Linked DNA regions of Homo sapiens. The protein of the gene in region 1 interacts with the protein of each later gene in a pairwise test. Each region holds a gene or a part of one and is shown in the gene's direction. Other genes may lie near its edges.

What was found. Proteins that work in one complex are often made in the same cells at the same time.
Region 2: the proteins of PAIP1 (region 1) and MYB interact in binary tests that used the Homo sapiens proteins (3 or more experiments, as listed by UniProt).

The regions. Positions count from the first base shown.
Region 1 is NC_000005.10:43,554,078-43,561,727, reverse strand, and holds the start of PAIP1 (polyadenylate-binding protein-interacting protein 1), read left to right. Parts: upstream 1-4,650; 5' UTR 4,651-4,881; coding exon 4,882-5,146; intron 5,147-5,728; coding exon 5,729-5,898; intron 5,899-7,650. UniProt on the Homo sapiens protein: Acts as a coactivator in the regulation of translation initiation of poly(A)-containing mRNAs. Its stimulatory activity on translation is mediated via its action on PABPC1. Competes with PAIP2 for binding to PABPC1.
Region 2 is NC_000006.12:135,191,282-135,198,316, forward strand, and holds part of MYB (transcriptional activator Myb), read left to right. Parts: intron 1-1,042; coding exon 1,043-1,277; intron 1,278-2,556; coding exon 2,557-2,637; intron 2,638-3,074; coding exon 3,075-3,179; intron 3,180-3,678; exon of another isoform or gene 3,679-3,800; intron 3,801-4,466; coding exon 4,467-4,721; intron 4,722-5,444; exon of another isoform or gene 5,445-5,627; intron 5,628-5,679; coding exon 5,680-6,042; intron 6,043-7,035. UniProt on the Homo sapiens protein: Transcriptional activator; DNA-binding protein that specifically recognize the sequence 5'-YAAC[GT]G-3'. Plays an important role in the control of proliferation and differentiation of hematopoietic progenitor cells.

The DNA.
Region 1 (7,650 bases):
TCTCATGCTACCTACTTTTTTAATAACCCCATCTACTTGCCTCTAAATTCCACTCCCTCCTTAACCCCTGGCAACCACAAATCTGCTCTCCATCTTCATAATTTTGTCATAAATTGAATCATACAATTGCTCTTGAGATTGAAATTTTGTGTTCAGCATAATTCCCTTGAGATCCATCAACATTCTTATATGAGCAGTTGTTCCTTTTTTTTGCTGAGTAGCATTCTGTGGTATGAATGTACCACAGTTTAACTATTCATCAAAGGATATTTGGGTTCTTTCTAATTTGGGGCTCTTATTAATGATGCCACTCTAAATATTTGGGTACAGGATTTTATGTGAATATAAATCTTAATTCTCTGTGAGAAATGTCCAGCAGTGCAATTGCTAGGTAGTACAGTACTTAATATGTAGAGTTTTTTAAAGAAACTGTTTTCTAAAGTGACTATAGCATTTTACATTCTCACCAGCAATGTATGAGCAACACAGTTCCTAGTTTCTCTACATCCTTGAATTTGCATTGTCACTATTGTTTATTTAAGCTATTCGAATAAGTAGGTAGTGAAATCTCAGTGGTTTTAAAAAAATTTTCCTACTGGCTAATTATGTTGAACATTTTTCATAGGCTTATGCTATCTGTATATTCCCTTCAGTGAAGTGTTCTTTCATTTATGTTTGGCCCTTTTCTAACTGAACTGTCCTTTTACAGTTGAGTTAGGTGTTTTGTTTGTTTGGGTTTTTTTCAGACGGAGTCACGCTCAACCCAGGCTGGAGTGCAGTGGTGCAATCTCGGCTCACTGCAACCTCTGCCTCCCGGGTTCAAGCGATTCCCCTGCCTCAGCCTCCCAAGTAGCTGGGATTACAAGCACGCATCACCATGCCTGCTAATTTTTGTATTTTTAGTAGAGACGGGGTTTCACATGTTGTCCAGGTTGGTCTCGAACTCCTGACCTCAGGTAATCTGTCCGCCTCAGCCTCCCATAGTGCTGGGATCGCACCTGGCTATAGTACTCTCAATACAGTTGAGTTCTGAGAGTACTTTATATATTCTAGATACAAGTCTTTTGTCAAATATGTGGTGCCTTCATCCATTTTTGTTGCTATAAAGGAATAGCTGAGGCTGGGTAATTTATAAAGAAAAGGGTTTCATTTGGCTCACTATTCTGCAGGCTGTACTAGAAGCATGGCACCAACATCTGCTTCTGGTGAGGGCTTCAGCCTGCTTCTATGCATGGCAGAAAGTGAAGGGGAGACAGTGTGCAGAGATTACATGGCAAGAGAGGAAGCATGAGACAGGGGGAGTGTGCCAGGCTCTTTTCAACAACCAGCTCTTGGGGAAACTCCTTGGGAACTAGTAAAACCATAACTCATTCGTTACTGTGAGAATGGCACCATGCCATTCATGAGGAATCTGCCACCATGACCCAAACGCCTTCCATTAGGCCCCACCTCCAACATTCAGGATCAAGTTTCAACAGGAGGCTTGGAGGGTCAAATATACAAACTATACCATGTGGTTTGCAAATATTTCCTCTTGCATATTTATGAAAATTTTCTCCTGTTAGCTGGCCTTGAAGGCTGTACTGTCTACTCCCATAAGGTCTAATGATGATCCTGAGGTCAATAAGTTCTAAAAAAACAGTCTTTTTTTTTTTTTTTTTTTTTTTACCATCACTAGACTGGTGACCTAAGGAAAGGCAGGACCATTGCAGGTGAGTCCTATTTCTGTTAAAAGCTTATTATGGACTAAGTACTGGGTTGGACCTAAAGGATTAAAAGGCATCCTCTGTCTTCAGAGGGCTAGTTTAGGGAAGGAGACATTTAAATAAACCAAATACTAACGATAACAATCTGGCATGCTAAGTACCAAGACAGTTTTCCCAGGGTATACTTATCACAAGGGAGAGAATCTAAGATTAGGCAGCTTGGGAAGTCTTACTGGAGAATGCCTTTCAAGTACAGTTTAAGGAAACATTTTTTTCATAGTTCACAGCAGGTCCTTTTCCATATTACAACATATTTTCCAATTTGTCCAAATTTAGTTCTACTCTCCTTTCACCATAAATTAATAAAAAAGGCATACACGTGGATGAGGAGCACTTTGATGATTCTCTTTAGGGAGTTCCACATGGTGTTCACACGTTCATGTGTTTCTGTCTATGCATTTTGCAATACCTGCCAGTTAGCTCTAAAACAGTCCCAAGATGGATCTGAGCCCTTGCGGTATCTTGGCACCTTTTATGTAAAGTGAAAATATTGGAATGTCTATCTCACAGGATATGAGGATAAAATAAAATGATAAAATAAAAGCTCTTAAAAGGTGACTGACGCATAATAAATATTAGATATTTTTATTATCATGATGCAAAATCCATTCGTGTTATCTCCAAGTCCACCATCCACACATTATAAGAATAGGGCAAAAGTTATACAGTAACAAATACAGAGAAGGCAAAGGATATCTTACCTAATTTTCCTAACAAGAGGGTGTGAAGATGTCGTGACATCACCATGGATGCAGAATGGCCTTATCTTCACATGGGAAAGTCCCAGTTGTTAGAAAAGGTGCTGTTCATCATAAAAGTTTTAAGGGGAAATGAAAAGGTGGTGAGTGCAAACAAAAGCTTGGGGCAGAGTTGGGGCATCTACTTCAGTGGAACATAACTCATTGTTAGTTTTTTAGCATAGTTTATGGGTCTTTCCTGTATGATAAAAAAGTCCAGGCAAGAAGTGACTGGTGACCACATACAATAATGAATTTGAAAATATTAAAATTGTAATTTTTAAATTGTAATCTTGTCTCTGCAATATATGCTGAGTGTTACCACACAGTTATTATTTTACAGATGAGGAAAGTGAGGCTCAGAGAAGCTAAACCCCTTACTTACTCAAAATCACACAGACAGCAATAGTCAAGAGTGGAATCCCAACTAAGCTCTGGCAGACTGAATCCTAAACTTTCCGTACACCGAAGAGCCACACGTACTGCTGGCTTCCTTCCCTGACTTCATTATTTTGCCTAACATCAATAGCATGAACCATTTATTCATGATTGCCCTCGGTGAAGCCATTTTCTCATTCGTTTAGGGGAAGACATTGTTTTCTTTATTAATGAGAAGAGAAAACGGTTAACAAGAGTTTGTGTCCCTAATTGAAATGATTCTTAAGATGAAAAGATAGAAAAACATGAAACCCTGCTTAAAACAAAAGGCTAAAATCAGAATTTATGGAGATGGATCAATCCAACAGTAAAGAAATCAATTTTTCCTTCCTTGTCGTTACTTATATTCATCTATCCTTTATTTGGCATTAATACTGTCAGGCCTGACAAAAACAACAATTTACATATTAATAAAATCTAGAATTGTGCTGTGCAACGCAGTAGCCACTAGCCACATGTGGCTCTTGAGCCCTTGAAATGTGCCAATCCCGACTAAGATGTGCCATAAGTGTAAAATATACACTGGATTTCAACTAGTATCTAAAAAACAGAGAAAATATTTAATATTTTAAATCGCATGTTAAAAAACCATTTTGAACATAATGGATTAAATAAATTTAAATTAATTTCACCTGGTTTTTGTTTTGTTTTGTTTTGTTTTTTGAGACAGAGTTTGGCTCTTGTTGCCCAGGCTGGAGTGCAACGGTACGATCTCGGCTCACTGCAACCTCTGCCTCCTGCGTTCAAGCGATTCTCCTGCCTCAGCCTCCAGAATAGCTAGGATTACAGGCATGTGCCACCACGCCCGGCTAACTTTGTATTTTTAGTAGAGACGGGGTTTCTCCATGTTGGTCTGGCTGGTCTCGAACTCCCGACCTCAGGTGATCCGCCCCCCTCGGCCTCCCAAAGTGCTGGGATTACAGGCGTGAGCCACTGCGCCTGGCCACACCTGTTTCTTTTCACTCATTTAATGTGGCTTCTCCAAAATGTAAAATTACATAAGTGGCTTGCATTTGTGGCTCGCATTATATTTTCATTGGACAGCACTGATGCAAGATGAAAAAGAGGGCAGAGTTACACTGAAAGGTAGCACATTTTCTTGAAATTTCTGGAGGGGAAGGTTAACGGGAAGAGAACGAAGCTTGTTAAACGTAGGTGTGACCTACTGTGGTAAACACCTAGGGTGAATTAAAGAGGGGACACATATTTTGATTCCGTTTCTACTCCCTTCCCCCGATGCTAACGGAGCAGGTGACAGTCTCCCAGGGACCACTCCTCAGCAGTCCGCGGGTCTCGGCCGGAGCCGAGTCATTGAACACACCTGTGCGCCAGCGAACCCTGGCGCAGGGTCCACGCCCCCTCCCCCCGTGTTTTTATTTCCCGGGCGTCAACTGTCGGTCTCGCACGTCTCTCCTGAGAACTACCGAGTAGGTCGGGCCTGCCTGTGGTAAGCGTCCCCCTCACCCCTCATCCCTCATCCCCCCCAGCCTGGCCCCGGAACCGAGATGCCCCTGCCCGAGCCTGGCTGCGGGCCGGCAGGTGGCCAAGACGCCACTCGGCGGGCGGCCTGCTGGGCCCGGCGGCCGGCCAGCCGCGAACTGGAGGATCCTCGCGGGCGCGTCCCGGGCCTCCGGGCCGCAGGGGGCCGCTGTGACCCGCCTGCGCCCCTGCCGCGCCGAAGGCGGGGAGCCGGGTTTTGGGGGAGAACTGGAAAGCCGAGGGTAGCCGAGCGGGGCGGGCGCTCTGGAGCGGCGGGTGCTCGGGCTGCCGTCCGCTCCGCCAGAAGCACCGAGCAGCCGAGCCGGGGCCCGCCGCCCTCCTCCTCCATGAGGCCCGAGTGAGGCGCGGCGGCTATAGCCGACCCGCGGCGCCTTCCCCCCGCGTCCTATCGCGAGCGCAGCGGCAGCGGCCCCTGGAGGAGGAGGCGGAGGAGGAGGAGCATGTCGGACGGTTTCGATCGGGCCCCAGGTGCTGGTCGGGGCCGGAGCCGGGGCCTGGGCCGCGGAGGGGGCGGGCCTGAGGGCGGCGGTTTCCCGAACGGAGCGGGGCCTGCTGAGCGGGCGCGGCACCAGCCGCCGCAACCCAAAGCCCCGGGCTTCCTGCAGCCACCGCCGCTGCGCCAGCCCAGGACGACCCCGCCGCCAGGGGCCCAGTGCGAGGTCCCCGCCAGCCCCCAGCGGCCTTCCCGGCCCGGGGCGCTCCCAGGTACGGAGCAGCTCTAAGGGCCCCAGTCCTCCTTGGCGAACGCTTCCCCACGGCCCTCCACGCGTGCCGAGGCCCGACGCGCTGTCTGCGGTCCCCACCCCCGGTTCCCCGAAAGCATTCCCCGAGAGGGCCGCGTGACCGGGTAGGGACGGGCCCGGAACCGGGTTTGGAAGGTGTCTGCTGGAATCCTTTGTGCGCCTGGCTGGGGGGAGGGGCCGGGTGCGCGGTCTCGGAGTTCGGGGTCCCGGGAGGAAGTAAAAATCGCCTCCCCTCAGCAGCCCTCTAAAGCGAGACCCTAGCGAGTAACCACCTCTTTTCCACCGACCCCTTTAAAACGACAGAGAGGAAAAAAGCTCGCAAGCACTCATTTGAGAGGCAGGTATGCCCATAACGGAGTCACAGCAAGTCTATTGTTCCTTTTTGTAGGCTGTCTGTACACATTCCGGCGATAACCATAAATTTCATGATGGTTCCTGTTTAACTCTTAAAAACAGACGCTTTTCAGATGGTTTTTCAGTATATAGCAAGTTGCTGTACAAAGGAAAGAATGCATCTGACGCCCCGTTTTTTTTTCTTTTGCAGAGCAAACGAGGCCCCTGAGAGCTCCACCTAGTTCACAGGATAAAATCCCACAGCAGAACTCGGAGTCAGCAATGGCTAAGCCCCAGGTGGTTGTAGCTCCTGTATTAATGTCTAAGCTGTCTGTGAATGCCCCTGAATTTTACCCTTCAGGTTATTCTTCCAGTTACACAGTAAGTACACCCTTTTTCCTACAACTCTGGGTTAATTTACTGGAATAATGTGGTTGTTACTTTGTTAATCAGAGTATGTTTGTGCTTTCTGTACTACACGTAAAAAAATTTTTTTATTGTGAATGTTTTGAATTATTGAACTCAGAAGGAAACAAAGCTGATTCAGAAATACATTTTGTAGTTATATTCAAGGTATTAGAATGTAAGCTTGAGATACACATCTGTGTTCTTGTTTCTAGTGATTATTCCATTATGTTAAAATAGACATAGTTTTGATCCTAATTATTGTATGCAGAAATGTCCTACGGGGTTGTGATAAAGTATTTACATAGGTATAAAGAATGTTTAAACTTTCAGTTTTTCTTTGTCACTTATATAACAACTTTAAAAAATAGTCACTTTTCTTAAATAGCCGTACAAAGCACAGTTGGAATATGTAGAAAGGAATTTGTTGTACTGGATAAACCCAGATGAGTAAATGCATAGGGATTAATTATAGAGAAGTGGGAGGGAATCATTGGAGAAATGATTGATGATACTTTAGCTTAAATCCTGTCTTTCCTATCTTCTTAGTTTTATTGAAGTATAGCAGAGAATAGTGTACTTAAGTGTTAGCTCAGTCTCATAAAGTGAACACTCAACTAACCAGCATCCCAGTCAGGAAATAGAACATTATCAACATCCCGAAAACCCACTCTGTCTCCTTCCAGTTGTTCTTGATGTCCAAGTATAGCACTGTTTTGACTTCATAGGATAGTTTTGCCTGTGTTCAAAGTTTATATAAATAAAGTCATATAGAATATATTCTTTCTCACTTTCAATATCAAGATTACTCCATATTGTAGCATATAATTGGAGGTGACTTATTTTTATAACATTCCATTGCATGAATATATCCCATTTGTCTGTTGATGAACGTTGGTAGCTTTCACTCTTGGGTTATTATGAATAGGGCACATTTTGTGTCTTGCTGGCTGTATGCCTTTATTTCTTTTTGGTATATTACCAAGGTATGGAGTTGCTGGGACTTAGGGTAGCCAGCTTTAGCAGAGACTGCCAAGTAGTTTTCCAGAGATTGTTCCACTGTACATTCTGAGTAGTGTATGATTTCCAGTTACTCTGCTTCCTGGTCGGCACTTGGTATTTTCTGTTTAACCATTCTGGTGGGCATATAGTATCTAGTTGTGGTTTTAATTTATATTTCCCTTATAACTGATAATGACACACCTTTTTTATTACCTCTTTTTGGCTCTCCTTCCATATTTGACAGTAAAAGTATGGAAAAAGCTGTGTTCCATGTTTTAGATACTCCATGATTCTTATGCTGTATAGGAAAAAGCTTTGGGATTGGAAAGAAAAAGATACAGGCATAGCAGGAAAAGCAATTGATATGGGGTGAAAAAGGCCATCTATCGTGTAAGGTAGAAATGAGAGCATCTTGAGTTCTTGCCAGAAAATTGTATTTAGCTCACAGAGGAAAAGAACCATTAGAGCCACTGTAAGAGGTTGAATAAACTCTTAAGGATGCTTGTTCTAGCAGCTACAAGCAGGTTCCCATTTATTTTCTTCCCTATTGACTTGGGCTGTTTTATGATGGAGGGATACAGGGGTGTGTTTGTGTATGTAATAATCGTGTATCAACTATTTTTACGTGGTTCAAGTGACTTTGGGGCTGTCGAGCAGTATATAAAGTCATGTTAGTCCACCTACTTTGAGCCACTGCATCTTTTAGGCATTCCTTGCCATCCTCTA
Region 2 (7,035 bases), on another chromosome or scaffold:
TCCCATTTTTCCCACTTAAGTAGTATATAACAGATTTTGTTCCTTTGGAAAGCAATACTTTTAATGATAAATCTTGCATTAAAATGATGTAGATCAAAAATATTAAAAATAGTTTTATTCTTGAGCTTCATAATCCAGGAGAAAGTTTATATAGTATTCTCTAGTGATGCTCCAAAGCATTTGCACCCTTGTGGTTCAGTATAAACTTAGAAATTTTAAGAGGTTGGTAAAAAAAGGCCTTTCCTCCCATATGGCCTGAGAGGATACACTGCTGATTCTTCTCAAAATTAACAGGGCTATTGAACTTCCTCTTTCTTTAGCATACATTCCCCCACCCCCATTGAAATAGAAAAAGGGAGACTTAAACGGTTTTTTTGAATTGAGAAACTGTTTTCCTGAGAATGGAAAGACTTTAGTAAAAATGCGTTGCCTTTTGAAAATATACTGGGGGTTAGGATCTTTCCCTTTGGGATCCCATTTTCCACTCTCGTCTCTGTCTGATTCAGAAAACAATTGGGGTGGCTTTCAAAGAGTAGGAGGTTTTTTGGTCTCAGAAGTTCTCACTAGTGCTTTGAGAGATAAAGAGTGAAGTATTCTTCATCAGCAGCATCTTATCATCCACCAGACTTCACCATGTCCCTCTCGTGGTGTGTAGGCCCTGCTGTGCCACATTCAAAGGAGTAATTTCCCCAAGGCAGCTGGAACTTTACATTGTGTTGGAGTCTTGTACCGCGACCGGTCAGAATAAACATGAAGCGTTATCGTATTGAAAATACTCCTTTACCAAGGAAATGGAATGGTTAAAAGATACTGATATTTCTAGAAAACGACATGCATTCCAGATTGTGTAACTAAGAGAAATCTAACTAGGCAATAGAGAAAGCCTGATCTCAGAGGGTGGAGAAGAAGGAAACAATTAAAAAGAGAAAACAACTAATAGGCCCAAGGGAAAGGTCTCTGTTAGAAACAGTTTTCTGTCAATTCACTTTAATCTGAATTGAAATTTTTGTTTGTGAAATTTGTGTGATATATTTCTGTGCAGAACTGATAATGCTATCAAGAACCACTGGAATTCTACAATGCGTCGGAAGGTCGAACAGGAAGGTTATCTGCAGGAGTCTTCAAAAGCCAGCCAGCCAGCAGTGGCCACAAGCTTCCAGAAGAACAGTCATTTGATGGGTTTTGCTCAGGCTCCGCCTACAGCTCAACTCCCTGCCACTGGCCAGCCCACTGTTAACAACGACTATTCCTATTACCACATTTCTGAAGCACAAAATGTAAGCCATTCCTGTGAATCTAGTTTAATGAGAGAGACGGTTAGTTTAGCTCCAGGTAATAATCATACTTTGCAGTTGTATACTTTTCAGAGAACTTTCCTGAGCATGATCATGGCCAGTCTTCACCTATGCCCTTTGAAGTAGATAGGGTGTAGGTATGGTGTGTTACCCCTGGTTTATGTCTCCAGAAACGAGGATGGTAAGCGCTTTGCCCAGGGTGACACAGCTCATAGAGATAGTGCTGACTAGAAAACGAGCTGTCCGATTCTAAATTGCTGCTTCAAATCTAATTTGAAGGCAACCTTTGAATGTAAATTTACTTAAGGTACTATTGAAGAATAGGGGAATGGAGTCGCATTTGTAGATGTAATGTTTTTCTCTTCCAAAACGAAAAGGGAAGGTAGTATTATGTTTAAAGAGGAGAGAGTTTGACACTGAAATTCAGTGGTTATGGTATGTTTCATTCTGGCAGTGATCAGGCAGACATGTCTTAATTTATTCACTCAGTAAGTGTTTACCTTCTTACTCTGAGTCAGGAGCAGAACTTTGTGACATTCATTTTCTGATGTCTCCTTTTAGTCTCCGTTGGATCAGTGTGATCCCTTCCTTATTTCTAGATATTTATATTTAGGGAAAGTGATAATCCATAATAGGTGGAAAAAGAAGAAGAAAGAGGAAAAAAATCGAGAAACTTTAATCTTAAGAATAACAATATTAAATGATAAAACTTACCCAAGAATAGAGAGCTCATATGCAAATTATATGCAAAACATGTTCATAAATAGTTTTTATTCTTCTCTGTCCATGGATTTGACTACAAACTTTACAGAAAGGTCTCAGATGAATAAATTATCATAAGAATTCCTGTGCTTTTTATTAAAACTCAAAATTATTCCAAGAAAAATATTTTTATTTACAAACAGCTGGTGCCATCAATTTTTCCCATAGAAACAATTTTGAAACATTCATTAATGTATTTTATAATATATTTTTTATTGTTTTTTTCATTGTGTTTTTCTCTAATTAAGGAACACTTCCCAAAATTTAAAGTGCTCATCAACACCTCCCAAGGATTTTTCACCATGTTCCTTTAGCTGTTTAGCCATTTTAAAGGCCTGGCTAAATTTCACATTAAAAGGTTTTAAAAATTTGTTTAGTGTATTTTATCAGTAAAGTGTTTTTTTTCTCTCAGTCCCAGAACGAAACCTCAGGAAGCCAAGTCCCCTGAAGCATATGTAGCCCTGAATGACGTGGCCTTTGTTTTGTCTTTTGCATCTAGGTCTCCAGTCATGTTCCATACCCTGTAGCGTTACATGTAAATATAGTCAATGTCCCTCAGCCAGCTGCCGCAGCCATTCAGGTAAGATCATTGATCATTCACTGTTCAAAGCACCACTTTTAAGAAATGCTTATTTCTTTCATCTAAACACATATTTTTACCTGAGCAACTAAAGTAAAAAGGAAAGGGAACATGGAGAGGAGAGCAGAGTCTTGGCCAGCAATCTATTAATCTTGTCTTCTAGAATGAGTTTGCTCTGGAATTTTCTGATTCTTTGATGTTGCAAGGTGAAATAACTCATCAGTCAGCATCCACTCTAGCCTGAGATTTCACATCACTCCCTTAAGTCTGAAATAACATTCACAAAGATTTCTGCAGGAGCCAAATTTGGTTGGTGGTGTTGTCACAGTGAGGCTCTTTGGGCTGTGCGGCACCTCATGACCATATTGGCTACACCCATTGTATTTGCAGCTTCCAATCAGACCTTTGTCTTTATTTCCCTTACTTTGTAATTTCAGAGACACTATAATGATGAAGACCCTGAGAAGGAAAAGCGAATAAAGGAATTAGAATTGCTCCTAATGTCAACCGAGAATGAGCTAAAAGGACAGCAGGTGCTACCAGTAAGACTGTCATCATGTGCTTGAATGAGGGGATAGCAGCTTTGCCTCAGTTTACCTAAGCGCTCTTCTCTTCTAAATATTACACTTAGCAAGGCTCCATATATCCATTCAGAATGTCTCAACACAAGAAGTTGCTTGTAGTAAAATGTAGTTGGTATCAGATTATATGCTGATTAAATTGGAAGCAGTCTTTTTGTAATTGCAATAAAAATGCAATATCCACTTATGATTGTTATCATCAATTTTTTTCTTCAGAAGGACTATAATCAGTTTAAAGACTAGCAAAGATAAAATGAATGAAAATCTGCATTTTCTACAGAGCTATGTATCTATATGGTACCATTTTGGTTTTTTTCTATTATTTTGTTAACCTATATTTTCATATTTTATAATTTCAGACATGATTTGATGCATGTTCAGTATATACATGTAAAAGGTTATATATAAAACCTCTTCATAAATAACATTAGCTGCTCTCTTTTATTTGCATGTGTGAAAGTTATGTGGGCCATTACTGAATTCTGACATCTTTAGCGACTGGGCAGCCAACTGGGATGGCTCCTTGTGCTTTGCAACATACATAGTTAACCAACAAAGACAATAAAAGAGAAGTGATGCCCAGTAGGTATTCCTAGGGGTAAATTTATTTTTTGTTAAATAATAAGATGTTTATGTGCACATGCTAGTTCGACCACTTTTTAACTTTAGTTAATGTTTTGCAATTTCTCCTGTTGTGTGGTCATACTGTAAGGAGACTTCTGTTAATTTGCTCTTCTGCTTTCCTAACCACGTTGATTTGGCAGTGCTTCACTGCATCAGTGCAATCTGTAGCATTAGAAAGGGATAGAAGCAACAAGAATATGTGTAGATCAAAGCAACTCTAACTCCTGAGTCCTCTAGCTTTTTTGTGGTTAGAATGCAAATAGGACAGTTCTTCAGTTCTTCACTCACAGCAAGCATTTATGGACCTTTGGCAAATTATATTAAAGTGGAATTTTAAGACAATATGATAATTATACTTCGAAATATAGACCTATGATTTGACATTTTTACAAAATGATAACAAGGTAATCATATAGGTACAACCTCTAGCACTATTAAAAACAGGGTCTTGCATTGATAAAAGGAAACATCTTGACAACTGTTTCATAGGCGTAAGTTTGGGATGATGCAACTACTCTTATCTTTCCTCCAACAGCATCTGATACCTTGTGCAACTTCATTGCTAAGTTCCTTCTCCCTTTCTTCTGTCCTCTCTTTATTTCTACACCCTTCCCCCTTCCTTAGACACAGAACCACACATGCAGCTACCCCGGGTGGCACAGCACCACCATTGCCGACCACACCAGACCTCATGGAGACAGTGCACCTGTTTCCTGTTTGGGAGAACACCACTCCACTCCATCTCTGCCAGCGGATCCTGGCTCCCTACCTGAAGAAAGCGCCTCGCCAGCAAGGTGCATGATCGTCCACCAGGGCACCATTCTGGATAATGTTAAGAACCTCTTAGAATTTGCAGAAACACTCCAATTTATAGATTCTGTAAGTAGAATTGTGAAGGGAAGTTAACGATTCTGGAAGATAAATTAGAAAACCCATTTCTTAAATCATTGCCATTTTCTATAGCCAAGCTGTTATTAGCATATATTAATGTAAAGGTAGAAGTATGATTTTCATCTTCATGAATATGTTTTTTCAAAGATCTGATTTCATAGCCTACCGAGAGAGACAAAAGTATTTATAAATACTTACAAAATAGGACTTTTGAAGGAAGAGTTTTTTTTCACATTTTCACACTTTTCCTTCAAAAGTCATATTTTTAAAAATAGTCAGATTGATGACTTATAAAGCAGAGCTTGGATTATGGGAACGGAATGGTGTTTGAGTTACTTTTAACTTTTTTTTTTCTTTGCTTACTTCATGGTGCTTCTCTAGAATTTTGTCTTGCTTTTGAACAGCACATTAATGATTTGGCTTACTCAGAGCTGAAAGCAATCTTTTAGTGTATTTGAAGTAATAATCAGCTCCTTGGTCATACCTGGCTCTTTCCACAAAATGGTGATTATTGATTACTGGTCCCATTGCTTCACTGAGATGAATCATCTTTCGTGAAACAAATTTGTATTCAGCACCTCCTCAGCGAACACTTGGTTCCTTTCCCAGTTGATTAAAAATCATTTATTGCACACTCATTGGTTAGGAGATGACCATTGCCGTAATATGCCATCTAGAAAAGGTCTTCATTTTGCTTTCCATTGCATGCAGATGTAGAGTGTCGGGAGGTCCCTGCAGCACATCAGAGGGCCAGCCTTGAGGCAGCCCACTAGACCCTGCTCTACTGCAGTATAATAGAGCAACTGCTCATCTTGAAGCTGTTGCTCAAGAAGCCAAACCAACGGGCCTAGTGTTTGCTTTGCGTTGAGCATCTCTCTCTCAGTGCTGTTTCAGGTGATGATGGCACACACTATCTCAAAGTTCTGTGCCTCCCACATTGTTTCAGGATTCTTCATCATGGTGTGATCTCAGCAGTTTTGAATTCTTTGAAGAAGCAGATTTTTCACCTAGCCAACATCACACAGGCAAAGCCCTACAGCTTCAGCAAAGAGAGGGCAATGGGACTAAACCTGCAGGAGAACCTAGCCCAAGGGTGAACAAACGTATGTTGAGTGAGAGTTCACTTGACCCACCCAAGGTCTTACCTCCTGCAAGGCACAGCACAATTCCACTGGTCATCCTTCGAAAAAAACGGGGCCAGGCCAGCCCCTTAGCCACTGGAGACTGTAGCTCCTTCATATTTGCTGACGTCAGCAGTTCAACTCCCAAGCGTTCCCCTGTCAAAAGCCTACCCTTCTCTCCCTCGCAGGTAGAACACAATTTCTGCACAGCTGTTACTCATTTTCAACAGACACCTGAGCCTTAATAATCTAGAAACTAATACTTCGGAACAAATGACTAATTACTGCTGCCTTTGCTGATTTCATTCTGTCGTTGAATCTAGCTGTTGCTAAGTTATACTGCCTCCCAAAGTTTAGGCTGTCTGCAGGCTAACTGTTGATTTTGGCATCATTCTCTCTCTTTTACTTTTGGGTGGTTTTGAAAGATAGTTGCATGAAACGTACTTTTATTTCCTTCAACACTAGAGTTTAACATTTCTGTCCCTTTCTTTTTCTCCCATCTGATCCCTCCCTTTAAAATTGTTAACATCATTTCTTCCTCGTTGTTCATTTATTCTTATGCGATTCACTGACCCAGGGGAGGAGGGAACCAAATTGTGTTTATATAACATTTGGGTTGCAACTAGAAAATTTAAAGCTAGAAAATTTAAAGGTTCCAATTCATCTTTAAATGGAAGAGTTTGGGAAGAGGATGAGAAACAAATGCTTAAGGAAAAGAACATATTTTTAATTTCAGTTTCTCAACATTGGCTCTTTTGAGTTGTGCCATACTATTTTACTAGTGCAGTTTTTGCCAAGGAATATTTTTATTTCATACAGCTTTTTTAAGGCATGAAAATCACAATTCTTATCAGAGATTTGTGTTCCTAAATTATTTAAATAATTAAATTAATAGATAATTTGGCACTTTAAAACATTTTTCCAATTGTATCTGTTGAATTTGTTTTAAGAACAGATTTAGGTATGATATAGGTATATACATTTGGGAAACACTGAATCAAACAAAGTTACAAGTAGGTTTCTTAGCTGGGCATAGTGGCATGGGCCTGTAGTCCTAGCTACTGGGGAAGCTAAGGCAAGAGGATTGCTTAAGCACAGGAGTTCAAGTTCAGCCTGGTGAACATAGCGAGATCCCATTTCTTTAAAAACTTTCTTTTTTTTAACTGCAGGCCTTCTCAGAG